4 linked regions of the Homo sapiens genome follow. The protein of the gene in region 2 interacts with the protein of the main gene of each other region in a pairwise test. Each region holds a gene or a part of one and is shown on either strand. Other genes may lie near its edges. The genes, in order: CNNM3, AGR2, RTL4 and PRPF18.

What was found.
Region 1: the proteins of AGR2 (region 2) and CNNM3 interact in binary tests that used the Homo sapiens proteins (3 or more experiments, as listed by UniProt).
Region 3: the proteins of AGR2 (region 2) and RTL4 interact in binary tests that used the Homo sapiens proteins (3 or more experiments, as listed by UniProt).
Region 4: the proteins of AGR2 (region 2) and PRPF18 interact in binary tests that used the Homo sapiens proteins (3 or more experiments, as listed by UniProt).

Annotation. Positions count from the first base shown.
Region 1 is NC_000002.12:96,833,268-96,835,882, reverse strand, and holds the end of CNNM3 (metal transporter CNNM3 isoform 1 precursor), read right to left. Parts: 3' UTR 501-2,615; downstream 1-500. UniProt on the Homo sapiens protein: Probable metal transporter.
Region 2 is NC_000007.14:16,788,383-16,795,407, forward strand, and holds the end of AGR2 (anterior gradient protein 2 homolog precursor), read right to left. Parts: intron 6,638-7,025; coding exon 6,554-6,637; intron 4,576-6,553; coding exon 4,526-4,575; 3' UTR 3,429-4,525; downstream 1-3,428. UniProt on the Homo sapiens protein: Required for MUC2 post-transcriptional synthesis and secretion. May play a role in the production of mucus by intestinal cells. Proto-oncogene that may play a role in cell migration, cell differentiation and cell growth. Promotes cell adhesion.
Region 3 is NC_000023.11:112,077,041-112,087,587, reverse strand, and holds the start of RTL4 (retrotransposon Gag-like protein 4), read right to left. Parts: upstream 4,573-10,547; 5' UTR 4,471-4,572; intron 1-4,470. UniProt on the Homo sapiens protein: Involved in cognitive function in the brain, possibly via the noradrenergic system.
Region 4 is NC_000010.11:13,624,965-13,634,695, reverse strand, and holds the end of PRPF18 (pre-mRNA-splicing factor 18), read right to left. Parts: intron 4,437-9,731; coding exon 4,356-4,436; 3' UTR 3,837-4,355; downstream 1-3,836.

The sequences.
Region 1 (2,615 bases), on a different chromosome or scaffold from region 2:
ACACACCTGTCAGAACGGCTGAAGTAAAAACATGTGGACACCACTAAGTGCTGTGGAGGATTCAGGGAAACTGATCATCCTAGGTTGCCGGTGAGGACATGAGTTTGACAGTTTGTGGCCAGGTGCGGTGGCTCACGCCTGTAATCCCAGAACTTTGGGAGGCTGAGGCGGGCAGATCACGAAGTCAGGAGATCGAGACCATCCTGGCTAACATGGTGAAACCCCGTCTCTACTAAAAATACAAAAAACTAGCCGGGCGTGGTGGCGGGCGCCTGTAGTCCCAGCTATGGGGAGGCTGAGGCAGGAGAATGGCATGAACCCGGGAGGCAGAGCTTGCAGTGAGCCGAGACTGCGCCACTGCACTCCAGCCTGGGCAAAAGAGTGAGACTCCGTCTCAAAAAAAAAAAAAAAAAGTTTGATTGTTTAAAAAACGAAACATGCAACAACCCTATGACCAAGCATTTACACTCCTCGAAAACTAATCCTGACACAGAAACCTGTACATGAATAGTCGTAGCAGCTTTATTTGGAATAGCCCCAAACTGGAAACATCCCAGGTGTCCTTCAGGGGGCCAATGCATACACCACGGAATACCACTCAGCAATAAAAAGGAGCAAACTGTTGACACATGCAATGCCTGGATGATCTCCCGAGAATGACGCCGAGTGAAAAAAGACAATCCCGAATGCTTACACACTATGCTCCCATTTATACAACATTCTTGAAATGACAAAATAAGAAGAGATGAACGATTAGTGGTTACCAGGAGTTAGGGAAGGTGGGGAGGGAGATCCTTGTGGGGATGGGACTTCTTTATCCTGATTGCAGTGGTAGTTACACAGATGTACATGTGACAAATGATTTGGACTGTCCACCCACATCGCACCAGTGTCAGAGTCTTTGTTGGAATACTGCATTACAACCATATAAGATGTAACCATGGAGGGAAACTAGATGAAGGGTGCGTGGGGCCCTTACCTTTACAACTTCCTATCATCTGAAATTATTTCAAAATATAAAGTTAGGAAAAAAGAAAGCAACAGCTCTAAGTGCAGTATGGCATCCTGGATTGGCTGCTGCAGCAGAAAAGGGACATTGGGAAAAATGGTAAAATCCAAATAAACTCTAGCTATTAGTATGATTGCACCTTTAGTTTTGATAAATGTACCAAGGTTATATGTAAGCTGTTAACATTAGGGGAACCTGGGTGAAAGGTGTATGAAACTTCTGTGAATCTGGGCACGGTGGCTCACGCCTATAATCTCAACACTTTGGGAGGCCGAGGCAGGAGGATCGCTTGAGCCTAGGAGTTCGAGACTACCCCAGGCAACATAATGAGACCCTATCTCTACAAAAAAAAATTAAAAGTATTAGCTGGGTGTGGTGGTGCCTACCTGTAGTCCCTACTACTCAGGAGGCTGAGGTGGCAGGATGGCCTGAACCAGGGAGGTCGAGGCTGCAGCAAGCCGTGATCACACCACTGCACTCCAGTCTGGGCGACAGAGCAAGATCTTGTCTCAATAATAATAATAATAATAATAATAATAATAAATAAATAAAAAATTGAAAACTCTGATGCCGACTCTGATTAAATCACAAGCTCTGGTGGCAGGTCCACGTATTTTTAATTTGCCAGGTGATTCTGGTGTGCAGCCAAGGTTAAGAATCCCTGATCTTAGCTCACACCTATAATCCCAGCACTTTGGGAGGCCAAGGCAGGCAGATCACCTGAGGTCAGGAGTTCAAGATCAGCCTGGCCAACATGGTGAAACCCCATCTCTACTAAAAATACAAAAATTAGCCGGGTGTGGTGGTGGGCACCTGTAATCCCAGCTACTCAGGGGGCTGAGACAGGAGAATGGCTTGAACCTGGGAGGTGGAGGTTGCAGTGAGCCAAGATCTCACCACTGCACTCCAGCCTGGGTGACAGAGTGAGACTCCATCTCAAATAAACAAACAAAAAACCACTGTTCTGGAGAGAGGATTTTAAAGCATCTGTTTCCAACCCGGGCTTGCTCTCAGAGTTTATTCCTTGAGGACAATTTCTAAGCAAGGATATCACTGTTGTTTTGACCTTCAGTCCCATTTATAAGGGTCCAAATTCCTTTGAGAAAAGTTCCAGAAATCCTCCTCCCTCCCTACCCAATCTATGATCCTATGTCCTTGTGATGCCCGTTTCCACACAGCTGAAGAACTACGGAAGGAAAATGTAGTAAACTAGAAGAAAAAGACAAATGCCTTCCTGTTCCCACTTCTCTAAAACCCCATAGCTAGGAACAGAAAAAAAGGAAAAGACTTGAAATGTTCTAGAGATATAACAAAAACTTTTTTTTTTTTAAAGAGGATCCACCTGGTTCATGAACCCTCCCTCACTGCTCTCTGCACATCACGGCCACACAGCACCTGCAGGGAGGCTGTGGGGAGGTGTGGAGCAGGTGCAACAGGCAGCTACTCTCCTGGGGGCCACACGGCGGAGAGAGGATTCGATGCAGCATGACGATCCCTTCCTCCCAGGCATGACCTCTTCTCAGAACACGGGAACTGACAACACTGCGAGTGGCAACTCAGCAGGTGGGCAGAGAAGCAGAAAGGGGCCCTCAGCACCACTAGGCCA
Region 2 (7,025 bases):
AAAATGGCTGCACCATTTTATATTCCCACTATGTTATTAACATTTTTATTTGGCTGTTTGAAATAGCACTCTTCAGTCTTCTAGTACTCTTCTACTTCTCTGTAGTCAGAGAAGTAGTCAAGATATACTTTCACTTGAAATTTATTTAAATGCAAATGATAGATTGTGAGATGACAGAAGAGGGATTTGGTAGAAAGAACAGACATTGCTAATATTTCAATGAGTTTAGAACAACCATGTTTGTATCTTCTATTTTTTTTTTTTTTTGGAGACAGAGCCTCTCTTTGTCACCCAGGGTGGATTGCAGTGGTATGGTCTCAGCTCACTGCAACTTCCGCCTCCCTTGGTTTCTCATGCCCCAGCCTCCCGAGTAGCTGGGATTACAGGCATGGGCCACTGTGCCCGGCTAATTTTTTTGTATTTCAAGTAGAGTCGGGGTTTCTCCATGTTGGCCAGGCTGGTCTCGGACTTCTGGGCTCAAGCGATACGCCTCCCAAAGTGCTGGGATTACAGGCATGAGCCACCACGATTGACCTCAATTCTGTTTTTAACCTTGTATGTACACATTTCCTGTAGTTGCAATTATAGCATAGAAGGTCTTAAATTCTTTTTTACTTAGGCCTTTTCTGTTTTGCCATTATGTTTATTATTTTTATGGATGACAACATAGTGCATTTTGTCTTTTTTTTTTTTTAATTTATTTTTTTTTATTGATCATTCTTGGGTGTTTCTCGCAGAGGGGGATTTGGCAGGGTCATAGGACAATAGTGGAGGGAAGGTCAGCAGATAAACAAGTGAACAAAGGTCTCTGGTTTTCCTAGGCAGAGTGTGTGTGTCCCTGGGTACTTGAGATTAGGGAATGGTGATGACTCTTAACGAGCATGCTGCCTTCAAGCATCTGTTTAACAAAGCACATCTTGCACCGCCCTTAATCCATTTAACCCTGAGTGGACACAGCACATGTTTCAGAGAGCACAGGGTTGGGGGTAAGGTCATAGATCAACAGGATCCCAAGGCAGAAGAATTTTTCTTAGTACAGAACAAAATGAAAAGTCTCCCATGTCTACTTCTTTCTACACAGACACAGCAACCATCCGATTTCTCAATCTTTTCCCCACCTTTCCCCCTTTTCTATTCCACAAAACCGCCATTGTCATCATGGCCCGTTCTCAATGAGCTGTTGGGTACACCTCCCAGACGGGGTGGTGGCCGGGCAGAGGGGCTCCTCACTTCCCAGTAGGGGCGGCCGGGCAGAGGCGCCCCTCACCTCCCGGATGGGGCGGCTGGCCGGGCAGGGGGCTGAGCCCCCCACCTCCCTCCCGGCGGAGCAGCTAGCCGGGCAGGGGGCTGACCCCCCACCTCCCTCCCGGATGGGGCGTCTCGCCTGGCGGGGGGCTGACCCCCCCCACCTCCCTCCCGGACGGAGCCGCTGGCCGGGCGGGGGGCTGACCCCCCCACCTCCCTCCCGGACGGGGCGGCTGGCCGGGCAGAGGGGCTCCTCACTTCCCAGTAGGGGCTGCCGGGCCGAGGCGCCCCTCACCTCCCGGATGGGGCGGCTGGCCGGGCAGGGGGCTGACCCCCCCACCTCCCTCCAGGACGGGGCGGCTGGCCGGGCGGGGGGCTGACCCCCCCACCTCCCTCCCGGACGGGGCGGCTGGCCGGGCGGGGGGCTGACTCCCCCACCTCCCTTCCGGACGGGGCGGCTGGCCGGGCAGAGGGGCTCCTCACTTCCCAGTAGGGGCGGCCGGGCAGAGGCGCCCCTCACCTCCCGGACGGGGTGGCTGGCCGGGTGGGGGGCTGACCCCCCACCTCCCTCCCGGACGGGGCGGCTGCCGGGCGGAGACGCTCCTCACTTCCCAGACGGTGTGGCAGCCGGGCGGAGGGGCTCCTCACTTCTCAGATGGGGCGGTTGCCAGGCGGAGGGTCTCCTCACTTCTCAGACGGGGCGGCTGGGCAGAGACGCTCCTCACCTCCCAGACGGGGCGGCGGGGCAGAGGCGCTCCCCACATCTCAGACGATGGGCAGCCGGGCAGAGAAGCTCCTCACTTCCTAGATGGGATGGTGGCCGGGAAGAGGCGCTCCTCACTTCCTAGGTGGGATGGCGGCCAGGCAGAGACGCTCCTCACTTCCTAGATGGGATGGCGGCCGGGCAGAGACGCTCCTCACTTTCCAGACTGGGCAGCCAGGCAGAGGGGCTCCTCACATCCCAGACGATGGGCGGCCAGGCAGAGACGCACCTCACTTCACAGATGGGGTAGCGGCCGGGCAGAGGCTGCAATCTCGGCACTTTGGGGGGCCAAGGCAGGCGGCTGGGAGGTGGAGGTTGTAGCCGAGATCACACCACTGCACTCCAGCCTGGGCACCATTGAGCACTGAGTTAACGAGACTCCGTCTGCAATCCCGGCACCTCGGGAGGCCGAGGCTGGCGGATCACTCGCGGTTAGGAGCTGGAGACCAGCCCGGCCAACACAGCGAAACCCCATCTCCACCAAAAAAATACGAAAACCCGTCAGGCCTGGCGGCGCCCGCCTGCAATCGCAGGCACTGGGCAGGCTGAGGCAGGAGAATCAGGCAGGGAGGTTGCAGTGAGCCGAGATGGCAGCAGCACAGTCCAGCTTCGGCTCGGCATGAGAGGGAGACCGTGGAAATAGAGGGAGAGGGAGAGGGAGACCGTGGAAAGAGGGGGGGGGGGGGGAGGGGGAGGGGGAGGGGGAGGGAGAGAAGAATTTTTATGACTACTCACCTAGACAGGATTAAAAAACTGCATTTTGTCTTAATATACCATGTGGCCATTATATTTTTGGGAGGTTGCTTTTCTGTGGTACGTTTAAATAATGTTACCATTGGCATCTTGACAGAACTGTTTCTGTTGAATGATTTCCTTAGGATAAATTCTCAGTGGTGGAGGAGACTGATGGGACAAAGTCAATTAATGACTCATGCTTTGTGTTTCTTCAATGCTTTTAAAAGGGGGACTTATTTTCCTTACAGCTGTAACATTTGATTTCCTAAATATTTATTTATATTTAAAAAGTATTTGTATGTGTTAAGATATTTTGCCATTCAATACATTTTAAGAAGTTAACCTTATTTCACGTCCGCCCAATGAAAAAATATTTTGCTATACTATAGGAGAAACTTGAATCACTTAGAACTTGTCATTTAAAATATTTGTTTATGGAAGGGAAACCTCTTTTTCCTCTTGTTATCCCTCAGAGATCTTTTTAAATGGAATGTTTTACCTTTTTCAGCACATGTAAGTTATCTACTTGTGAGAAGGGAGCTGATTAACCTGTGATATTTTTGCTGAAGATTTGTATGTCATTAAATCAGCAGTATATGCTCAACACCTACTAATGATAGTAGTCACTAGGAGAGATAGAAAAGATTGAAAATATATCCCTGGAAAAATTAATAATGCCAAAAGATCTGTTCAAAAAAGGTTTTATCCAAAAAAGTTAATCAAGACAAGCAACAGATACTGCAAAGCATTATATACAGCACCATAGTCCAGGGGCCAAAGAAATCAGGAGGGGCTGGGCAGTAGAGGAATTCCATATATTAATGAATGTGAGATTAAGTATAGAGTGAAGACATTAACACACAATTCTAATTTCTGTTAGGCAGAATGCTCCCCTACCCTGATGCCACAGCCTTTCACGTTTCCTAAACCCTAGTAACCTCTGATCTCCATCTGCCTCATCAACACGTCACCACCCTTTGCTCTTCTTCCAATTAGTCACATGTTGGCTGAATTTATTTCACTCCAGTACTTTAGGACCTTGACAGACAAATCGATTACAAGGTCAATTCCCAGGATTTCTTCAGGGTGTGTTCAGGAGTGCAGATGTTCTTTGGATGACCTTTCTACTAAATTAGACCTCTGAAGGAGAAAGCTACTTGCCAGAGGCTTTCCCTGAGAGCATTAGGTTGGGCAAAATCTGACTAAAATTTAATTACTAAATGAAAGTGTGTACCTTAGAGTTCCTGGCCAGAGTTGACTCTAGGTAGTGATGTGATTTTCTTGGGATGTTTTTCTAAATATTCTTTTATGCTAAAGCACATGGCTTGATACTTCTGTTGATTAAGCTCGTGTCTACTTACAGTCATCTAGTGAGAACCTGTGGTGTGGTGAGATGATAACTTGGTCTTTGGTCTTCATCATTTGAACTAGTTTTGGTTTTGTCTTGTCCCTTCCTTGAGCATTTTGTGTGTGTTTAATCCTATTTGGTAAACGAACCACTGTGAAAGACCAAGTTGGAGAAAACAGAACACCCCCAAAACATTTATTTTTTTTTTTAGAAAATCATGGCTCACTATGGTAGTATACAATATTGTTTTCACACATGTACACTTGAAACCAAATTTCTAAAACTTGTTTTTCTTAAAAAATAGTTGTTGTAACATTAAACCATAACCTAATCAGTGTGTTCACTATGCTTCCACACTAGCCAGTCTTCTCACACTTCTTCTGGTTTCAAGTCTCAAGGCCTGACAGACAGAAGGGCTTGGAGATTTTTTTTCTTTACAATTCAGTCTTCAGCAACTTGAGAGCTTTCTTCATGTTGTCAAGCACTAATGGGGGATAAAAGCAGGAGAGTCAAGACACCATCGTGCGTTATATCGATATAATAAACCCCAAACTTGGATGCTCAATTCATTATTTAATGGGATGCTTTTTTTTTTGAGACAAGGTCTCACTCCCACTCAGGCTGGCATGCAGTGGTGCAATCTCCACTCAGTGCAACCTCTGCCTCCTGGGTTCAAGTGATTCTTCAGCCTTAGCCTCCTGAGTAGCTGGGATTAGAGGTGTGCTCCACCATGCCCAGCTAATTTTTGTATTTTTGGGAGAGATGGGGTTTTGGTATGCTGGCCAGGCTGGTCTCGAACTCCTGAGCTCAAGTGATCCACACACCTCGGCCTCCCAAAGTGCTGGGATTACAGGCGTGAGCCACTGTGCCCAGCCTGATAGGATGCTTTTTATCATGAGGTGAATAGTTGGTAATCTTATTGTAATTTAAAAAAATTATATGAAATGGCTTTTGTGACAATCTAGTTTTCTAGTGTAGTCATTCCTTCCCAGATCCTTCATCTCCAACCCTCACTTCCAAAAGAATCCTTTTATAAGCTCTAGCAGCAGAAGATAATTTTGGCTCATTTAGAAGTAAATTTAAATCATGTTTAAAAGAAATGTCTATTAGTAGGTGTGTGTAAATTGTTTTAGAAGTAGGGGAAATATAAATAATAGCAAACCAAGTGCTTTATGCAGATGAATTCTTTAATCCTCATACAAACACGATTAGAACTTTATATATACATAATGAAACAGGCAGAGAGAGGCTGAGTAGCTTGCTCAAGGTCACACAGCTAACAAGTAATGGAGCTACTGTTCCAGAGCCCAAACTCTGGGTCACTGTTTCTTCAACAGCAATTCATCAAAATGAGGTATGTGATCTACTAAAAATAAGATGTCCACTCGATAGGCATTGAACAGCCGCTTATTCACTCTTCCTACAAATCTTAATTATTAAGTGCCTGTTCTACAAGGGATTGTGATATTACTTGTGTAGGACACGTGCCTTTTAAGAGCTTAGTCTTATTAAAATGTATGGTATTATCTCAGTAATGGCTGACAGTACTTGGAATGTGCTTCCCCTGGTCCAGCACACACTGGAAACATTGCTAATGGACCATGATGATCTCTCCTGCTTCCTAGACACGGCCTCACTTCTCTTCCCAACATGACGTTCTAAGTCAGCACTGGCCAATAGAAATTTCTGTGATGATGGAAATGTTCAGTGTCCGGGCATTGAGCACTTGGAATATGGCTAGTGTGACTGAAGGAATGAATTTCTAACTTTAACTTAAGTAGCAACATGTGGCAAATGGTTAACATATTGGACAGTGCAGTTCTAGGCAGCCACTACTAATTGATCAGAGTTGGTTCCTAGGATAAAACCCACTTTTCTTCCCAGAGGACTAATCAGATGTCACAGCTAGCTACAGCGTTGCATTGAGGTACCTCATCTGCCTTAAGTCAGTGTCTCTCTCTCTCTCTGTCTCTCTTCCATTGATGGCAACCATAGGGAAGGTAATTTTCTTGGCAATCATTTGGATCATCTTTGAAACTGATCTTTAAACTGAACCTGAATTTAATTTTAAGCTGGACTGCACATTCTTTCACTTTTGTTATTTAAAAAATTAAGACATGCAGATTATTACAATTATTACACTCAGTTCTGTGATAGAAGGAGTGTGTGCTCGTGTACCTAACAGAAAACCTGAAAATCAGGTAATGTGGTCATAGAATCCTCCTAGAGAAAAAGATACCTAATCTAAATAATTCATCTTCAATTGAGATTAAAAACAAACAAACCTGAGATGGAAAGAGTGTGATTTGCCTGAAGATGCAAGGCTAGTTAGGGTCAAACTGAGTCCGAGGCGTCCCTAAGCCTAGCTCTCTCTCACCTCACCATGCAGCCTCTAGTCCCATCACTACAGCAATAGAGGTGTTCAACTCTTGGGCAACATCCGAATTGAAGGTCACACTTACACAGAGCTGTATCTGCAGGTTCGTAAGCATAGAGACGATTTGAATATCTTCCAGTGATATCGGCTCTAACTGTCAGAGATGGGTCTGCAAAGATAAATGAAGCAAAAGGGAATGGAATGGTTTGTTTTCAAACAACCTGTATTTATTGCCCCGGGGAGCTGAAGTTCATGTATTCATGTCCTGTGAGGGAATGGAGTGTGTCTGCACTCACAGGAGCTCTGATCCATCCACTCTACTACCCAGCCCCTGGCAGTTAGTAGCAAATGCAGGGCTGGAAACATCAACAGCTGTGCAGTGCTATTTGTGGAAAAGGTTATGAACCCTTCTGTTCTATCTATGGCAACCTGAAAACAGAATAATATATATTTAGGGGTGACATGGTGTTTTTTTTTTTTTTGGTGAAAACATTAACATTCTCTACTGCAAAATTATTTTAAATTCTTGAAACGATTATGTTGTAGTTTACATGTTT
Region 3 (10,547 bases), on a different chromosome or scaffold from region 2:
TGTCTTTGATCAAGAATAAAGCATGGCTCACCAACTACTCCTTCACAATGACAAACTTTCCGGAGAGAAATGCTGAAATTTCTTGGCCCTACTCCCAGCCTCCATAGATTTTATAAAACATGATCTGCAGTTGGGGTGATTTTTAGGAGCTTCAGGAAGTCCTCATCCCAAGGACATACATGTTCCCTCATGCTTGAACTCTTTTCATTAAAGAGATAGAGCCCTTTTCCCCACAATTGGAAAAAAAAAAAAAAAAAAGCTGAAGACCAATCTACTCCTGGGAGAGGGAACACATTAGTATAGTGATTAGGACAGATTATATCATTCCATGAGGGATAGTTTTTAATAAGCTGGGGAGGGGGCAGGCAAAGTAAAGACTAAACCTACTCTTCCTGAGGTCCCACAGAGTCAGTCACAGACCAGCAAGACACAATTGGAGCCTTCTCTGTCACTATCCTCTAACCTCAGGCAAGGTGCTTCTCAATGGTCCAATATTCTGCAATGTCCTATGATTCTGCAATTACACTTTACAAATTTGCTCAGAGCTGGCCCCATTTGCATTGCTATTAATGGTGAGGACAGCAAAGTCCTTAGCTAATCCATGAAGTGAAGCTCTGTTTACACATCTTTTATTAAGATTAATCATTAATTAATGTAAGGCTTTATCCCTTGATTACAGGGATCCCATTCTGATATAACAGTTTAAATGTTCTCTTGAAAAATGAAACATATTTTTCAATTACAGTCATTCGTCGTCCCAATTCAGGCAAAACTTTTATTTAAATAAATAATTAGTCTTGGCAATAGCATCATAATGTATGAATGTGTAAAGTTTGAATGTGCTAATTGTTGGTTCCTGCATTAGTCTTTATAAGTGACATGTTGCTATATATATACGTGGTATTGGGCTAAGAATTATCCAAAGCAAGTAACACTGATGCAGTCCTGCCTGGCTCACCGGAAACTTATTTTCTAAGGCAGGAGCTTACTCAACTGATTTGAACAGATATTCCATGCTTTCTCCTGCATTTTCCTTTGCTGAATTCCTGATCAAGATCCTACAACTTGCATTAGTGTTGTTTGACTTCCTGAGGTAGAGATAGTGCTGAGTGTTAAAACCCATAATCACACTGAGATATTTTTTCAACACTCCACAGTATTTTAAGAATCACCTCTTTTTACATTCCATTTCTTTTGCTTTTGCCATTGTTGAGTATTTCTCTAGCATGCAAGTAGTTAGAAACTTTCCTTGAAAACAAAAACCTGCTTTCAAATTGCTCAATTTGTTACAGCCTTTGTGATGTTGTAGTCATTTTTATGCTGGATACAGTGTTATGACACAAATGCCACACGCTGAGAAGTCACAAAAAATTGTTGTAGGACTATGCTAATTAGCAAAACAAAATGCAATCTCTATAAGGCAGAACCTCAAACAATAAGCCACTGTTTGGGGACAAATAGGAAATAGAAGAGGGAAAAAGCCAGGTTGGATTCAATCCAGAAATTGGTTATCTATGAAAATCAGTAACCCTTTCCCCTTGGGGAAAGAAAGGTCAATAGTTTCTTAGCATACTGAAGGCTGGGATTATGTCTTACAGATCTTTGCTATAATCAATACCCTACTCATAGTGTGTGCTTGACAAGAATTTGATGGTAACCAGAAGATGGCATTGTTGATAACAATGAATTCCACCATTTGTCAAAACTTAGCTAATTTGTGAGGGTTCCTTTTTATGTCGTTTCCTCACAAAATATTCATTATTTTCTGAGACTCTGTTCAATGCAAAGTCTGGACATGCCATGTGGGTAGAATTAAGGTTAAAATATGGTCTTTGAAATGTGACATTACCTTAAATGGCACTCATTCTATATGGTGAGGGGATAATTTTGCTCCCCAGTGGACATTTGGCCATGCCTGGACGCATTTTTGGTTGTCACAAATGGGGTGTGGGTTCCTACTGGAATCTAACAGACAGAGGCCAAGGATGCTGCTAAACATTCTACAATGCACAGGGCAGCCCCCCAACAAAAGGAATCATCTGGCCTAAAATATCAATAGCATCGAGGTTGAGAAACCCTGCTTAATGACTGGGAAAACCCCACTCTCTGGATTCCTCATAACAGTTTCTCTTCACCTACGATGTTACATTAAACTCTGGTCTACATATACCATTTACCACTATGGTCAAGGCTGTAAGAAGAGAGGAGAAAAGAGTATGTCTCAATTACATTTTAACAGTCATACCTGTCATGGTATTTGAATAGGCCAGGCCATGTAAGTAAACCTAGTCTAGAAGCTAGGTAGTTCTGGGCTTAAATTAGTCAGATAGTGGCTTCCATTTTTGGCTTTGAGCCACTTTTGCAGATGTAGCCTCTAGGTGCAAACTACCCTGGGAGACATACACACTCAGCCACCAAGTGGAAAACCAGAATATGTCCCTATTGACAGAGAAGATGAGCCACCCAGCCCCAAGGCTGACAAGCAACCTAGACAAAGCTTGGGTCCCTGCCTAAGTCAGCTTTCTAATTGCACTAGGAGATACTCTGCTAAGTTTGTTTTGGAATTCGTATAGTAATGCCTGGCATTTGTATGGTGCTTTTAACTTTTGAAAGGATTTTTCTTTATATATCCTTGATCTGAAGAGGTTAGAAGGATAGGGCAGAAACAGGATAGGGCAGGAGCAGAGAAAGAAATTTTAACCTTATCCACAGTCCACTGGGAAAGCTCCAAATTTCAGAAGCACACACAGTCCTCATATGTTAAAGACAAGTGCATTGGATATAGGGCCTTTGAAGGAAACAGCTCACAAGAATAAGGCTTTTGCTCTCCCTGAGCACTGCTTCTGGTTGCATCTGGGCTTGGAGTGGAAGTCTCAGCTGGACTGCAGTTTGGCTAAAAAAAGGGAAATGCCCCCAAAGTTTTATCCACGGTCACATATTCTACTCACCCTCATGCCAAAGGGAAGACGGCTTAATCACAACATAGACCTCCCTTGTTTGGGAGACTGTATATTAGTTTGCTGGTTCACAGTAAAACTGCCTTTGAATGAAAGGCAAAGAATCAAGTGATTTTTTTTTTTCAGCGACCCTCTTGGCCAATCTTTAGAAACACTTCCTGAAGTATTTAAGTTGTTAAGAGGTGGAAGCTCCACCCTCACTTCTTCCTCCCCAACTCCCTTCCCCCCAGACACAAACTCTTCATCCCCCAGGGTAATAATTTTCTTTTCTCCAATACCTTGCTCCCATACAAAAGCTAAATACTCTCCAGAATATTGGACTGCCTCGGGACTAGGAGGACTAACGACAAGGGGAAAATTTGTCTTGCTTGGTGCCCCGAGCGACTTTTCCAAGGTAGGCTAGGAGGAGAGTGCTTAGGGCTTCCACTAAACATAGCTACTACCAGCTTCACAGGCTCCGCAATGAAAACACTCGGCCATTTAGGCAAGGGAGATGATTCTGGCATTTTCGGGAGCTTACACTTAGGCTCCCAGGGCGTGCAGAGGGGGTTAAAGAGCAACAGGAAGTACAGTGGAGTTTTCTCAGAGCTAGGGATTGTTCTGAGAATGGGTAGGGAAAGGTTTTCAGGTACCAGCCCGGCGTCCAGAAAGGCAGAGACTCACATGCCCCTTTCCTGAGAGCGCTAGGAAGGGAGATAAAAGACAAAGCCAATATTTGGGGCTGTGCGGCCAGGCCATGAAATGCTGCCAGCTAGTGGACCTATGCGCCTGCAGGTTGCAGGTAGAAGTCTCAGGCTTGTGGTGGGGGTGGGGCTATTTAGCCCCTTCCAGTTGGGCTCAAGAGGGTGGACATTCTGAGCGCCAGGCTATAAGGTGAAAGAAGTGGAGAGGTGCTTCATGTGAAAGGAAGGCGTAAAGATCAAAGAGTGGCCCAAGTGTCCGGTGACACCGCCCCTCTCCCTCCACAACAGATACCACTAAGCAACCTAGCCCCCCGCCCCCATCCTACAATATCACTTTCCCTCCCTGTATCAATCTAGGCTGGATCTTGGGAGATCGACCCTATGGGTGAGAGGGGCACGGATGGGAGAATTAGGTAGCTCCAACTAGATTAATCTAGATCTATCAGGGATCCAAGCCTGCCCCATAGGACCCCAGGTCAGTCCCTGGCGACTCAGCGCTCCGCTGTCTCCCTGTCCTACCAGCCGCCCGCCGCCCTTACTCCCCCAGGTTCAACTCCCCTTCCTCCTGAATGACCTATGGTCGCCGGAGCAGCCTCGCCACCACCGGCCCAGAGCCCAGGCTGACGGGGGTGGGCAAAGGTCACTGCCCAAAGCAGGGGATATTCAGGCCAAGGGGCAAAGAGAGACTCTGCTAGCCATATGCTCCGAGGGACTCCTGTCCCCTCTACCCGCACCCGCGCTTAGCCTCCCACCTCCCCTCCCGTCTCTGCCACCACCCAGGGGAGGGGGAGGTCTGGGGAAGCAAACAAACGAGACAGAAAATTCCGTACCGAGGGGGGAGAGATGAGACGGTGGGACGGGGCAGCGGGGGTTGACTTGGGGCTGCGGCTGCGGCTTCCTTCCACCCCTGGCCGCGGAGCTGCAAAGAAGGCAGGAGCTGCTGCCCCTGCCGCCTGCCCCGTCCTCCCTCTTTCCCTCTCGCCTCCCCGCCTCCCCCGCCCCGCCCCGCCGCCAGGAGATTGAGAGTGGCTTCGGCCCGGGGGCTGGGGGAGGTGAGGGGTGCTTTTGCCTACCACGGTTGTCTCAATCTCTCTCTCTCTCTCTCTCTCTCTTTCTCTCTCTCTCTCTCTCTCTCTCTCTCTCTCTCTCACACACACACACACACACACACACCCCACATCACAACCACGACGGGTTGTCCGCAGCTCGCAGCCACCCCAAAGGGAGGAATAAAGAACAGGAGCAGAGGGAAGCCGGGCGCAGAAAGAAGGGAAAAGGAAGAGCTCAGGGTTGGACATTTTTGGAGACAGGGGTGGGGAGGATAAAGGGAGCGTGCCTCCTTGATTTTCCCCTCCCCACCCCTCTTTGCTTTTCTCTCCCCTTCTCTGTATAGCATATTCCAGAAACGGCAGCAGAAGGGGACAGAAACCTCTAGTGTAGAAAAGGGTTTTGGAGGGGTAGCCAGCGCTCCCGCCAGCCGCTACCTAACAGCTGGAGCTTGAGTGTGCGTGTAAGAGTGTGAATGCGGCTCTCTCTCTTTTTTTCTCTCTCTCTCCCCTCTCTCTCCATCCCTTCCTTCCTCCCTCCTTCTCCCTCTCCTTCACACTACAGTGTCAGCTACCCCTGTCAGTTTCCCCGTGTCAGTTTCTTCCCTAGCTCTTATTGTGTGTGACTGGCTGCGTGAAGGGAGTGGGTGCGCTTGAAGGGGCTCAGGTTGGGTTAGAGAGCTGGGAGAACAGGGTAGGGACATTGGTAGAGCAAAGAGTTTCAGGGCACTGGCGAAGGTGAAAGGTGAGGAGGGCCGATCTGTTACAGGCAAGTTTGGCAATAACTGAGCATCCAAAGGGGAAGCCAAGGTAGGAGCCAGTACTTGCGCTCGTCTTTACACCCCGCCCCTTTCCCTGTGCTCATCCGCCCACCCACCCATCAGCCTAGAGGCCCCGGGCTGTCCCAGTCGGCTGCTGTTTCGCGCCGCAAAAGAGGAGTCCGGCAAGGCGCCGCACCACGCATCCTGGCCGGTGGACATCCAGACGACACAGATTTTATCCGAAAAAACCACTTGGCTCAGGGTAAGTCTACAGGCGGCCGGTGCGGTCCATTTCACTGCCTGAGTGCTGCTGAGGGGCAAGGGGCAGCGAAGTGCGGGTTGAATGAAGATGCTGGGCTGCTGTAGGCGGAGAAGCATTGACTGGCTGGCTGTGGGCTCAGGGTGGTAGGGAGCAGAGGGAGGCCAGCAACAGATTGTTTTGGAAGAGGAAATGCAATGGGGAGAAGCTCCAGGGTTGATAGGACAAGGTGCTGCCTGCGATGACCAAAAACATCCTTTCACTGGGAATATTTTCCTGAACCACAGCTTTGTCCTATCCCTGGACAATGATTTGCTCCATTCTTGGGTAGATTTTAAGATCCGTGGGGAACCTGCTCCCAGGCCTCCTTAAAATCGATTAGTGTGGCCCTCGGACCAAGGATACCTGCCCTTCGTCAAAAGCCACCTTCAGAAATAGAGAGCCAGGAGCCGGATCATGAAGGTTCAGGAACCAGGGTCCCCATTTACCTTCTTTGTCTTGTATCCTTCAAACTTAAGAAATGGCCAGATTTGTTTGCCTGTCTTCCTTAAAGGAACCAAGAAATGCAAATGGAGGGGCATCAGTCAGATCTCTGCTTCAAAGTGGACACCTCCCTCCCTCCCTAGACACACATCGACTCGGACAAATGGTCATGATCATGTCCCACATATGCAGGTACTGAGCTGAATTCACAGATGCTGATCTTTCTCCATGGTCTCTTAGAATGAGACTAGAAGGGCTTTTTCCCTATTACAACCTGGGCTCTTTGGATCGCAGTCATGTACCTGGTGATGGTTAAGTGTTTAGCAAGGTTATTACTCCCTCAGGAAAAGCCTGAAGCGGGGAAACCAGCCTGAAAGATAGAACCTCTGAACTTTACCCGAGTTTATTATAAGAGTAGGAGAGACATAGACTAATTGATAATGCTCTTTTTAGAGATTGTGCATGTTAACCCTTGGCTTCAAATGTGAAATGATTACAACATTGACATGGCACACCCAGACCCACTTTTCTATTGCCATATATTTATCTTCATGGCATTTAACAAGAATGACAGATTTATATATCAGCATTCATAATTGTCTATTGTTGGTGTCATAGGTTTTTTGATGTTTTATTGATGATTTATATTATGTCTCCTTTCCCATAAACTCTTTAAAAACTGAGATATAAATGATGTCACATGGTACCTTTCATCATGTCTTTAAAATCTGCTTATTCTAAATCAAAAGGCATGTTAATATATTTACATAGTACGAAGTTCGTTTCAAAGCAAATATATAGTCTGGGATAAAAGAAACCCACAGGGTCAAGGAGTCTCTGAAGCTCTCTCTGTGAGGTCGAAGGAAGAATTGAATGTCACCTAAAATCCACATTTTGGTCCCTGGAAGATGCTGTTTTCATAAACTTTCACAATATACATAGGGAGAGAGAGAAAATCTGTGTGTGTGTGTGTGTGTGTGTGTGTGTGTGTGTGTGTGTGTGTATGTAGTTTTTCAAGGACCTCAATCAACCCCATACAATCTTGGCTCTGCTTTTGTAACAGAGGGGAGCAGGAGGTGAATTTGTGCTTCCAAAGCACCCAGGTTCGTCTGTTAAACTTTCTATTTATTACTATGTTACCAAAATGCAATGAATTGCCTCTTTCCAACTCAGCAAATAAGAGAAACGGATTCTGCATTAAGTGAAACTGTTTATGTTGCATCAGGCAATTCTTTCTAATGTTCACTGCTGAGAGAGAGCAGAATGAGGATTACTCAAGTAGGATCTGAAAAGGTGCCCATTCTGTTACTTTTTAAAGCAACCATAGTAAGTATTTTCTTAGGTTAAAATTACACTTTCAAATAGATATACTAAAGACCGGGTTGCAGACAGGTAGGAAAGAACTGGCAGCATCATAATTGGGGAAAAACTCAAAATATCAGCACGAATGAAGCCTACAGTGTAGGTTTTGCTCTGTTCTTGGTGATGTGAGTATCTGGCTGTTGAGGTAAGTCCTGATGGTTACCCAGGGGATAAGCATGTGAGCAGGTTCAGGGATTCAGAACCAATGTAGCCCCCGGCTTCACTGATACTAATTCACCTGGCTTCAGTGTACATCTCAACATGGAGACCTGAACCAGATATCTGCCATCCTTCCCAGCCACAAGAGCTATAATCCTAAGATTCTGTTCTTTCTATAGCTAACAACTAAAACCGGAATGGCACGCAGAACCACAGTACTTAGAGAAGACTAGGCCAGGAAATTAGAGATGCAGAAGGGAGGAAGATGAGAGGAATATGAGAGAACCGAAGATGTTTTGAAACAAACAGAAAGAAAACTATCCAGGTGTTTGCTTTGACTGGGAATGGAATTAATCCAGAAATCAACTCATATGTGAAGCATCTTAAAATTGCCTGTATTTGACTTGCAAACACTGTGTAAACAATGATAGAATTCCATAGTACCAGGGAATTGGGAACCTTGGAGTACATTCTCAGTGTTGCTGTCTCATTTCTCTCCTTACAATATTAAATTCCAATCTGCAAGCCATTCAGGTGCTTAGTTATTGAATGGATATTTCAAATGTGTCATGATGCTTTCCTGTAGCCTGTTTTCGAATATTCTAATTTATTTTTTGCCATGGCTCCATCACTGAAGGTGGTAGATTGAAGCATTTCTGCCTGCTTTACTTCTGCCAAAGGTTCCTGTTTTCACCTTAGTATACTAAGCTGTTCAGATGCCTCCTGCTAACTGATGAAGAATATAAGGCGCAGAATCTCTCTCCCCAAAGTACTCTGTGCCACAAGGTGCCACTGGCCTAATCTGGCCCAGTCATTTGCCAGGTTTGCAGGGAAAGGTATGACAAAGTTTGCAGCCTATAGACAGAAATAAAGCCTCATTCTAGGCAGAAGTTATTCCTCATCCCACAGATGAGGGATAAGCTAAGGCCAGCCATCATGTCCAGAGCCTAGTAGCTGACATATCCACAGTGTCATCCTTTCTAAAACTCACGAAGCTTTTCTTCTGTTGATGGGCCCCTCAAACTTTGTCCAGTGAGACCAGCAGAGCCATACTGCCAGCAAGGAATGATTCCTGAATGACTCAACTGTGGTCTTATAAACAAACATGTACATCATGCTCAACTGAGTGAGCACAGATGATTTAAAGAAATTATAAAAGCTGATAGGGGCTAAGAAAAATTGCAATTTGCTGGGTGAAGGGAACTTTGCAAGTTTCTTAGGTTTGGTTTTCTGTCACCAATTCTGGAGTTGGCCCTTGGATGGTGGTGGCCAATGCAATTGCCCCAGGTTTTTGCCTTAGCAAAAGGAAAGAAAAAATAACGATAAGAAACAAGCGGGGATCTTGGAGGGGTCAATCCTCTCATTTCACCTATAGAGAAATTGAAGTCTAGAGAGTAGAAATGACCTGCCTAAAACAGACTACTAGCTAACAACAGTGGCAAAACCACAACCCAGTACTGTTTGCTGATACGAAATACATTTTCTGAAGTTCTGTGGAGATCTTCCCAAGAAATCGAGAGGTAACTAAAGTCAAGTTTACCAAGATCACAGCCCTCTACTTCCATTCCATATGTATGTATACGTGTTTATATTATATGCTGCTGTCATATCTTTGTGACTTACCTTCTTGACCACCACCTCCCCCTAACACACACACACTCACACACACAATCCTATCTTGCTAGCTAAGAAAACATTATATGTGTCTATAGCTAGCGTATTCAGATGGAAGGCAGAATTAAACATGACAAAAATTTAGCTGCTCACATTTATGTGTCTGATCTGGCTCACACCACCAACAGCAAGGCATCTAGAAATCCCAGTCTGTTCTGCACCATAGTAGTTTTGGGGAATGGAAGCTAGCAGAATCCAGTGACTATGGCTCTGGTTTAGTATACTCAGTCTCAGAATCAGCCCCCCAAATGCATGTGCAAATACACACACATGCACACACACACAAACATGCACATACAGTCACACTCTTTCCGAAAAATTAAAACAAAGAAAATAGAAAAGATAAGGCAGGTGGTTTTTAGAGCAGAGTACAAGAAGAAGGAAAGGTTTGCAGACGGATATTCTTACCTTCCCCCATTCTTTAGCCTTATTGCCTAATTTTCATTAATCCCACCCTAATTTATTTTAGGATCTGAGAAAATAGAGCAATGCAAACATGTTTACTACAGCCCAGAAGGATGATCTGAAAAACCTCCACATTTGAGTGAGAATATCACAAGGATAGGGAAAAGGCTAGGATGTAGTGAGCTAGAGCCTTGCTACTCCAAGTGTAGTCCCCACACCAGGATTGCCACCATCCCCTGGGAGCTATCTATAAATGTAGAATCTCAAATCCTTCCCCAGACCGACTGAATAAGAATCTGCATTTTATGAAGATCCCCAGTGATTCATTTTTATACTAAAATTTGAGAAGCACCGGGCTAGAGCTTATCCAAAAAGCATCTGAAAGATATTTGAAAATAAACAATTACCTACTGAGCATGTAGGGACAATTCATGTGGCTTATCAATTAAAAAATAAAATATAAACTTTTTCCAGGTCCACTTATCTTATTATTCACTGTAAAACCCTTCAGTGTGGGCAAGAGAGTTCATGTAAAGGGAGTGAGATCATAGGATTTGTTTATTTACCAGGACGACTTGGGTGTGGGAACTCACACAGACCTGAGTTCAAATCCTGGCCCTGCTCACGAATTACTAGCTGTGTAAACATGCACTTTGCCTCTAAGCCTCACAGTCCCCATCTATAAAATGGGATTAATAATAGTACCAACTGGCACTGGGCTGTCATGAAAAATTAAATAAGACCGTATAATGCACTGG
Region 4 (9,731 bases), on a different chromosome or scaffold from region 2:
CTGGGTCTCCATACACTTGTTTTGAGTTGTGGTCCAAAAGTTTCAAATTCTACAGCTTTTACACTTCTACTTCCCAGGATGGCCAAACTTAGAAAGGCAGGCGCAGACTGCACAGACTGCAACGCTCATGGTTCCTAACATCTCCTAAGTCTGAAAGGAAAAGCAGTTGACCGCAAAGGCAATTTAGTTTTGGCAAGTTGTAAAACTGTGAGTTAAGGAAGGCCAGGACAGCGGATTGCAGGAGTGACTCTTGACTGTCCCGGCCTGAAGCTCAGTGAAAGAGTCTGAGATCACCAAAAGGCAGCTCGAAACTTCTCAGCTGCTCTCATTGGTAAAATTATGTGTTAAGCTTGAACACTGTGAGAAAAAGTTGAGGAAGTTGGTGCTTACAGAGAGGGAAGAAGAGACTCAACAGAAGGAAGTGGCCTAGTGAGAGTGACCAGCAGAGGCAACACAAGGATTCATTTAAGCAAGTTGTATAAAGTTTACAATGGGGGAAAAATAAATAATCAATGCTTTCATGATAAATTGTTCTGATCAACGTAAAAATACATTCTTTTTTTAAATGAGCATGTTTTTCAATATTCTGAATGGGGTCAGCTCACACCATAGCTGCGCGGCTGGCCACACTGCCCTCCCTAGCTATTCCACACCACCAGAAATTATTTTTAAATTTCAAATGATTTTAAAGTTACTGTTAACCATTAAAGGACTAGCGTGTGGTTATAGTTCAGCCAATGGAACTGCAGAGTCTGTGATGAAAACCAGTTGCCATAACAGTGTTCCCATAGCAACCCTCTGGGGACTGGCGCTGGCTCTTGCGCTCTGGACAGCTGGAAGCTCTTGCGTCAATATACCGTGAGAAAGTACTTTTCAGCTCAAGACTCCCAATATGACACCATACCATAGATTGCTATGGGATAAACTTATTCTTTAGGGGCTTCATGGGAGTATACTGGGGGAAGGAGGAGGCACAATCCATTAAGTTGTGTTTACCAGACATGCAGACAAAGGAAAGAGGCAGAGCTCAGCTTAATGCTCCCTTTCATTGAAACTGCCCCACTTCGTTCTACCATCCTTCTGTGTGAAGCATTAACCTCATGGGGTGGGGCAGGGTAGGCGGGGGTACAAAGGTGAGCACATGTGGCTGAAAAGCAGCCAATGATATGAATCCCCAAATTCAAATCTATCAAAGATTTGGAAACACTGGTGTTTTCCAACCTGCTTTCTTTCCGGATACATTATTACTTTCTTTCCAACAAAAAGGTGGTTGCATTTCCAAGTTATTTACTGAGATCAAACCCTAGAGTGCTCTGAAGTGCTGGAGTAGGTCAGGATATCACCAGAAGGCAGAGCTTAGCATTAAAAGTCATACTGCTATCAAGCCTGTTTCCTAGTCCTCTGAGTTCTCACTGAGCGCTCTGGGCCCACAGCAGATCACTAAGTTCCATTCTTAGCGACAGCTGCCTGCCTAGCTCTGGTCTCTCAGGACCGCTCCCTTCCTCCTACGAGATTCGGACTGTCCTTTGTCTCTTTCCACATGTCAATTATCTTTGGCCTTAGCTTTACTTTCCTAATTGTCCCCCAAAGACTGAAATCACAGCCACAACCTCCAGATTGTTGCAGGCTCTATGCTGCAACACTGAAAAATACTGCTCTGTCTTTGCAGTTGGCAATGACACTCCTAGGAAATGCACTATTTACTTCTGAAGGGAACTCAGTGTTTTATGAAATTTGAATTCAGAGACACAACTCTTAATGGATAGGAGTCTGGGGAGGAAGAATGGGAGGAATTTATCTAAGGACTGTGATTGATTTTAAAAGGTATGTCTTCACTGTTTTATAAACAACTACAAACAGAAATACTTACCTGCTGAGCCAAATTTTCACGATTTGGAAATTGGGGAAGGGCATTTTTCTATATATCCTCATGTTATTTGCAGTCATTTGAAGATCTTTAACTTCAGGGAAATGGAAAACTTCTCTGAGGGGATCTACATCTTTGAATGTGCTTCCCTCGAATGGTCACAGCCCTGTGGAACAGGTTCCTTTTTTCTCTAAACCATCTACCACACTGACCAATTTTAGGAGGTACTGGTGTCACATGACAGTTTCTTTATATGGAACATTAACTAACTGCAAAACAGAAGACAACAAGAAATTAATGAACTACTCTACTGTGTGACCTGATGGTGAATACAGAAAAAGTAACTCGGAGAGTACTCATTCAACAATATTTATAAATAGGTCCTATATAAAAAATCTAGATTGCTGTCATATCTTACGAAAGTCTGTCTCTCACTTGCGCTGGTAAGTTACACTAAGCTCTAACTGATTTTTTTTTGCGGGGGGGAGGGGACAGAGTCTCACTCTGTTGCCCAGGCTGGAGTGCAGTGGCACGATCTCGGCTCACTGCAAGCTCTGCCTCCTGGGTTCACGCCATTCTCCTGCCTCAGCCTCCCGAGTAGCTGGGACTACAGGCACCCGCCACCATGCCCGGCTAATTTTTTGTATTTTTAGTAGAGACAGGGTTTCACAGTGTTAGCCAGAATGGTCTCTACCTCCTGACCTCGTGATCTGCCCACCTCGGCCTCCCAAAGTGCTGGGATTACAGGCGTGAGCCACCGCGCCTGGCCCCCTCTAACTGATTTAATAACAAGAAAAGGTTTCCAAATGAGGGAGTGGGAGGCAAGGAACCCCAATTCAATTCCAGACAGCGGACCTCAGCCACCACCATGCATATAACCATCAGAAACGATCCTGTCTAGGCACAGCAGAAGAGCACAAGTGGCCAAAACTGGCTTTTGAACCTCCCCAAGGTTTGAACCTCCCAAGAGGAACCAGAATAGACCGCTGTGAATCTACATCCCCCTACTTGGTGACATCTAGCTTCCACCACATCCCCGGCCCTTCTCAATGCAGAAGTGGCTGAAAGCAGGAACAGCCGCAGGGTTCAGATACAGTAAATGCTTAATCAACGTTTCCATGATTACTGCTGTTGCTGCTAACACCATCATTATTACTGTTATTGTTTTGTGAGGACACACTGCCCCTAAACACAGGGCTCCTGAAAGGGACTCTGGCTTCCCTCTAATGACAACAGTGACACAACAACTAATATTTACGAGCTCTTATTATTTGCCAGTGTGCTCAGCATTCTGCTTGAACACAAAAGTGATGCTACGAAGCATGGACTATTATTACCAACTACCATTTAAGACAACGAAGCTGACGCTTAGAAAGATCCAGTTGCTTGCTAAAGTCATACAGCGAGCAGGTGCAGAGCTGAGATGTGAAGCTGGAAGTTCTGCCTTTGGAGCCCCCGCTCTTACCGCTATCCAGCGCCACCACTCCACCTGCTCCGGGAGCATCCACTCACACATGCTGCCATGTGAACAGAGGCCTCTCGGGTTCTAAAGCATAGTAACAGGTCACAGTGATATCTGAGTATGACATTGTGCAACATTAGAACGAGCCCTCACTGTGGAAAACCAAGGCCAGGACAGACTCTCGGGTGGGGACATCAGTACCAGCACCTTCCTCCTCTGTTGGCGGGTGTGGCTGGGAACACAGTCTGCCCAGGTCTACCAGCATCATCACAATTTCCCCACTCTCCCTGGCATCACAAACCACTGTCCCACCTTAACCTTGATGCACTGGGGTTATTCTGTTTTGAACTTAGTTTGCTATGATGTGCCATCTCTGTTTCTTCAAACTTCTATTTCCTATTAATTGTATCTGTCCTGAGAGATGACAAATACTAAAATTTACACTTCTTGGAAGATAAAAGCAAGCTTTGAAATGCAAGAAAAATAACATTTGAGTTATACCAGTAATAATATTTACATTCAAATTCTATTGCAAGACAGCAAAAGTTCAGCAACATTTAAGGACTATAAAGTTTCATTCAATGGTCCCATGTTTTTGAAATATATAAAAATATTTTATATAAATATTACATAAAAGACAATAGGCAAATTATAATATTTTACTGAAATAATTAAGTCCATCCTCAAATGTTTCTTTTTAATCATCTAACCACAACTTTCGGGTCAACTGAAAAAAAGGTCATTTTAAACCCCCTTCTGTTGTCTATGGATTTAAATTGTGAGGAAAAATCTTTAAAACTTAATTTTGGACTAATTAAAATGAAAGCAAGAAAGAAAAATCAGCTTGCAGTCAGATATGAAATGAAGGCCAACAAAGTTCTTAAAACCAATCAAGAGTTACATCAGGTAGAACTCAGAGACTGGAAACTCCAGTTTTCTTCTTTCCTCATTCCTGTTGGTAATTCCAGAAGTCCACAGCCTGCTTCCCTAAGTTTCTTATTGTTATTAACACACCATACACAGATCTCACAGTGCATTGTACTCCACACATTTGGATGGGTCTGTAGGAAAGTGTTTCTGGCAAATGGTCATTAACCTCTTCAATCCCTAAGAAAATAAGGAAAACAAAGGTTGGTTATGACATGGTTAAATTATTCTTAACTGCCTTCCTCTGAACTCGTTATCAGTTTGTCAATGTCCCCATAAAATGCAGCAGACCCAAGCAAATTCACTCAGATGTATGCCTAGAGAAATTTTTCTTGTGCACCTGCAGGTCCACACAAGAATGTTCATCACAGAACTGTTCACAATAACAAAACCAAAAAACTGGTAACAACCCAAATTTCCATCCATAGGAGGACATATGAAAAAAACTTTAGTGTGCTCACAAATGGGATATCTTACAGCAGTAAAAATGAATTAACTCTAGCTACATGTAACAATTCGGCCAGTCTCAACCAGGTTCCAATAGAGAATTAAGCTCCAAATGCCCAGCCTAAGGCATCCATTGTATGTAACGAGATAACTTCTCCCTTATGCATCTAAAATTTAGGAGACTATTTATGTATCATGTTTGGAGGACTGAGAAAATACACTCCAATTATTTTCTGTGTTCTGTGGTCAAGATGAGGGGCTCTGGTTGGGAAAGGCCGATGTATATGAATCTTAGAAGCAATGTCGAAAGTAAAAAGCAAGTGGCATGAAGTGTTACTACCTTCAGTGACATCCTTTTCATAAAATTCAAAAACAAGTAAAAAATGTATTACTTAGAAATGCACATATAACATGGTGGAACGGTTTTTCAAAAAGAAAGGAAATGACAAACTTAAGTGCAAGGTAATGGTTACTTCTGGAGTATGGAAGGACAATATTGTTTCAATGGTTTTCAGAATGTTCTAGTTCTTAAACTGGGAGTAAGGCTTTTAGACATTCATTTTATTACTTACTTTATAACTTGTGTTTTACATGTATTCTTTTGTATGTACCAAATATTACACAATAAAACCACTTTAATATGTCAGTAAAAACTGAGTACAACATTCCAAGCGTGACCTGGCCATTCTTGCAGAATTCACTAGAAGTAGTCACTGCACTACTTTTGTTCTGTATCTTGGCAACTGTAACCAAGACCCTTAGCTGTTTTTAGACAACTACAATACACACACCTAATTCCCACCGATCTCACAAAATTCAAGTGCCTTTTGTCTCTACAGCAGTTTGGCCAGTTCTCCAGTGTATAACTTTATAGTTAGATTTTTTAAGCTGATGAAAACAACTATCACTATTCAATTTCATCCTGTCTCTTTCAACTCATCCTTCAGTCTGTGATCTTTCAGAATCCTTGGTCGACATTTAGCTTTAGTTATTCTTCTTAGCTTTCTCATCCACCACTCGGTAAACATGTCCTCTAAGTCATTATCCAAATACTCAATACCGTGCGCAAACAGGCCAGGGCAAGGGCAGAGACCTGAGACACACCACGATTGAGCTCTCTCCAAAACGATCTTGGGAAGAGTTTGTAACCAGCAATGAATCCTATTCACTGTGCAATTCATTAACACACACATTTCCTTGTTTACAAGGAAAGACTTTGCCAAAGGTCTTACTGAAATCTACGTAACTTAACACCTGTTAAGCTCAATAAAATCACCAAAACAAACAAACAACACAAAAATCCCTGCAAAATCTCATTGGTCCCATAGTAAGCAGACAACACAAATATTAATCACAGTCAGTATCCATGGGTTATGTGTCCATGGATTCAACCAACCCTGGTTAAAAAATATTCAGAAAAAAACGGCAACAAAAAAAGAATTAAAAATAATACAAATAAATATCATATAATAACTATTTAAATAGCATTTACATTGTGTTGGGTATTGTAAGTAATCTAGAGATGATTTAAAGTATACAGGAGGATGTGCATAGATTATATGCAAATACTATGTCATTTTCTATCAGGGACTTGAGCATCCAGATTTTGGTATCTGCAGGGTCCTGGAACCAATCCCTGAGGATATTAAGGGACAAATGACATACTTCTATGAATGGAGCCATAATCTAACAGATTCCACATCAGAGAAACAAGACTGTGAAGTATTTAAAGTCCTTGGTGGATTCAAGGATTGCCCACATTATGAGATTTAGGAATTAGGGGTGTGGAGGGAGGTTATCTTTCAACTGATTCACAAGAAGGGCTTTTGCACACGTCATTCACTTGGCTCCTTTTTGTTGTTGTTGTTCCCTGTGTAATCAGGTATTTGCTTTGGGATAAAGACCATTCCATCACATAGTCCAGCTTATCCTGCTGTGAATTCTAATCATGTGTATGCAGAACTTTGATCGGTAGCCATGGAAATATAGATGATAGCACTAATTTGGCATCTTAAGGTTCCTGAAGGAATAGGTGAGAAGAGGGGCAAAGTCAGGCAAGAGAACACCCTGATGAAATACAAATAGCTTCACTCAGCAGCAGAGCATGGCAAGAATTGTTATGCGCAAGCGGAAGGCAAACTGATGGTTTGCCTTGGAGGTGGTTTTCCCCATGTCAGAAGAATTGGAATCTTAGGTGTGTGCTCCTTACAGAAGACGTGTGTGATGCCTATTTATACTCACTAAGCAGATTCTATGATTTAAAAACATATACTAGTGTTCTCCCTGAAATCTTAGCTGCCAAGGGTTGTGAAACTCAATTGTTTTAGTCATAAGTAGTTACCACAGAGCGGTATGATACATTTTTGTAAAAAAGATTTGAGAGTGCATGGCAGAGATAGGTGTGTAATCTCAGGACAGAATATCGTTATTTTCCAGATGGAAACAAATCTTTTCAATTAGACCCCTCAGGATTTCAGTTTCAAACTGCTTATGGATGCTTAAGCCAGTAAAACAATGAGCTGCTTAGCTTAGCTTATGGCAAATGGCTTAAAAACTTGTGGTATTTTTAATTGGCTTTTTATTTATATAAAGGCAATACCCTTATCTAACAAATGTTTATTCAGTGCCTACTATACATACTGTTCTAGGCTCTGGAAATACAGTAGCGAAGAAGCCAGAAAAAATCCCACCCTCCTGAGATCGAATTGTGGTAAGGGAAGACAGGCAAGAAACAAAATAAATTCATAAAAAAAAATTTTCAACGATGCTAAGTGCTTTGGAGAAAATAAAGCAGGCAAGTGGGGTAAGTGGACGTGTGGGGCAACCTGAAGGACTTTGGCTTGGACTCTGTGAACTAGGAAGCCCCTGCAGGGTTCTGAACAACAGAGCAACACGATCTGACTGTATGTGAACTGGATCAGTCTGGGGAATGCTGCTAAGAAACTGGAGAGGAGCAATAAGAGAAACTCAGGGACCAGAGAGAAGACACTGGAATAATTCAGATGAGAGGTGGTGGCTGGACCCAGTGGCAGCAAGGAAGGTGGTGAGAAGGGATCGGGCTCCAGACATACTTTGAATATAGAACCATCAAGCTTTGACATGGATAGGATATGGGTTGTGACAGGAAGAAAAAAGCCAAGGATAATTCCGGGTTTTCTGTGTACACTGTTTGAGGGGAAAAAAAAAAAATCACACGATTCTTGTATCAAATAATAGCAGTCCTCTACCTCACTCTTTCCAAATCCTAATTCCAGCTCTCCACAGGCAACCCTTTTCAAACGTTTTAAGTGTTTCCTCTGGCATTTATTGCCACATTTCTAAATACTATACTGACAGTGCTTGGTTTTTCCACCAGATATTAGTGATATCTCCTGACTTCCTACTATGAAGCAGAGGATATCTCACTCTTACACCACTGTCCACTGGCCCCACATATGCACGCACACGCCTCAAAAGCACTTTCTCCCACATCCTCCCCAAACCACATTTTTAGTGAAATCAATATTCAGGGTTTTCCTTATAAAGGCTACACAAATATCGTTCAAAGCAAACCCACATAACATATTATGATGATGACCTCTCATAAGTTTTTTTCCCCTTTTTGTTTTGTTTTTCTAATCCATTCTCCAACATGAGACTACCCTCACATGCCCAAACATCACTCAGGATCTGATCAGACATGCCAGGGAATATAAGCTCTTCCATTTCTTCCTGGAGTCCTTCAACCATCTACTCTAACCTGGACCCACTTGTACTGCTACCATCCTGGAGCATGACATCCCTGCAGCTCCAGCCTGGGGATTCCTCTCGCCTTGCTCTGTGGTGGATCTCAGCTCTTGGATCTTTTTCTTTGGATGGAGGACATCCTCAGGTAGAGTCAAGACTGCCCACATTCCAATCCCAATTCTACCACTGACTAGCCATGTGACCTTGAGAACTCACTTCTCTACGCCTCTTCCCCACTTACAAAACAGGGAAATGTGAGTGTCCATCTCATATTGTGGCTGTAAAGTACTGAAGGGAAGCACAGTAAGCACTACTTAAGTGTCAGCTATGACGATAATGACTACAGAGAATGTGTGCATGGGAGATGTCATTAGCCTATATTTACCCTTCACTTGATGGTTCAGAAAGGAAGAGAATTCTGAGTTGGACAATATTTCCCTAGCTATTGCAAAGGTACTGCTCTACTGTCTTCTACCTTCTAGTGCTATCAGTGAGAAGTATGACAGTATTTTAATTCCTGCACCTTTGTAAGCGACCTTTTCTCTGAAGTCTTTGAAATCTTCTCTTTAGCTTTGGCCTTCCAACATGCATTCTTTTGTGCCTTGATGTGAACTCTTCCTATTCATTTGCGCTGTATTAAGTGAATTCTTTTCATTCTACAAACTCACGTCCTTCAGGTCTGGGACGTTTTCTTACATTAATTCTTTATTTCCTATCTTCCCTTTTCTGTTGTAATGGCTATAAACGTTATAGATTGACTCTTATTTTCTTACCTTTCCTGCTTTTCATATTTCAACTTTATCTTCTAACCCACTAATGTAATTACTAAATTTTTGCTGATTTAAATTTTTGCTAATTTTTAAGAGTTCATTTTGATTCTCAAACTTTTTTATAGCCTAATGTTCTTATTTCATGGCTACAACGTTACCTAAGAATTTTTTTGTTTGTTTTGTTTTCAGACCCGTCTGTCACCCAGGCTGGAGTGCAGTGGCACGATCCTAGCTCACTGCAGCCTCAAACTCCTGGGCTCAAGCAATCCTCCTACCTCAGCCTCCTGAATAGGCATGCACCACCACGTCCAGCTAAATTTTTTATTTTTTGTAGAGAAGGGATCTATTTTGCCCAGGCTGGTCTAGAACTCCCGGTCTCAAGCACCCCTCCCACCTCAGCCTCCTAAAGTGGTGGGATTACAGGCATGAGCCACCACGCTTGGCCTCTAAGGATATTAATTATCATTCTCAATGAAATTTTTTTCTGTTCTCTATAATTCTGTTTCTATGAAGGTCTTTTTTTCTGTGTGTT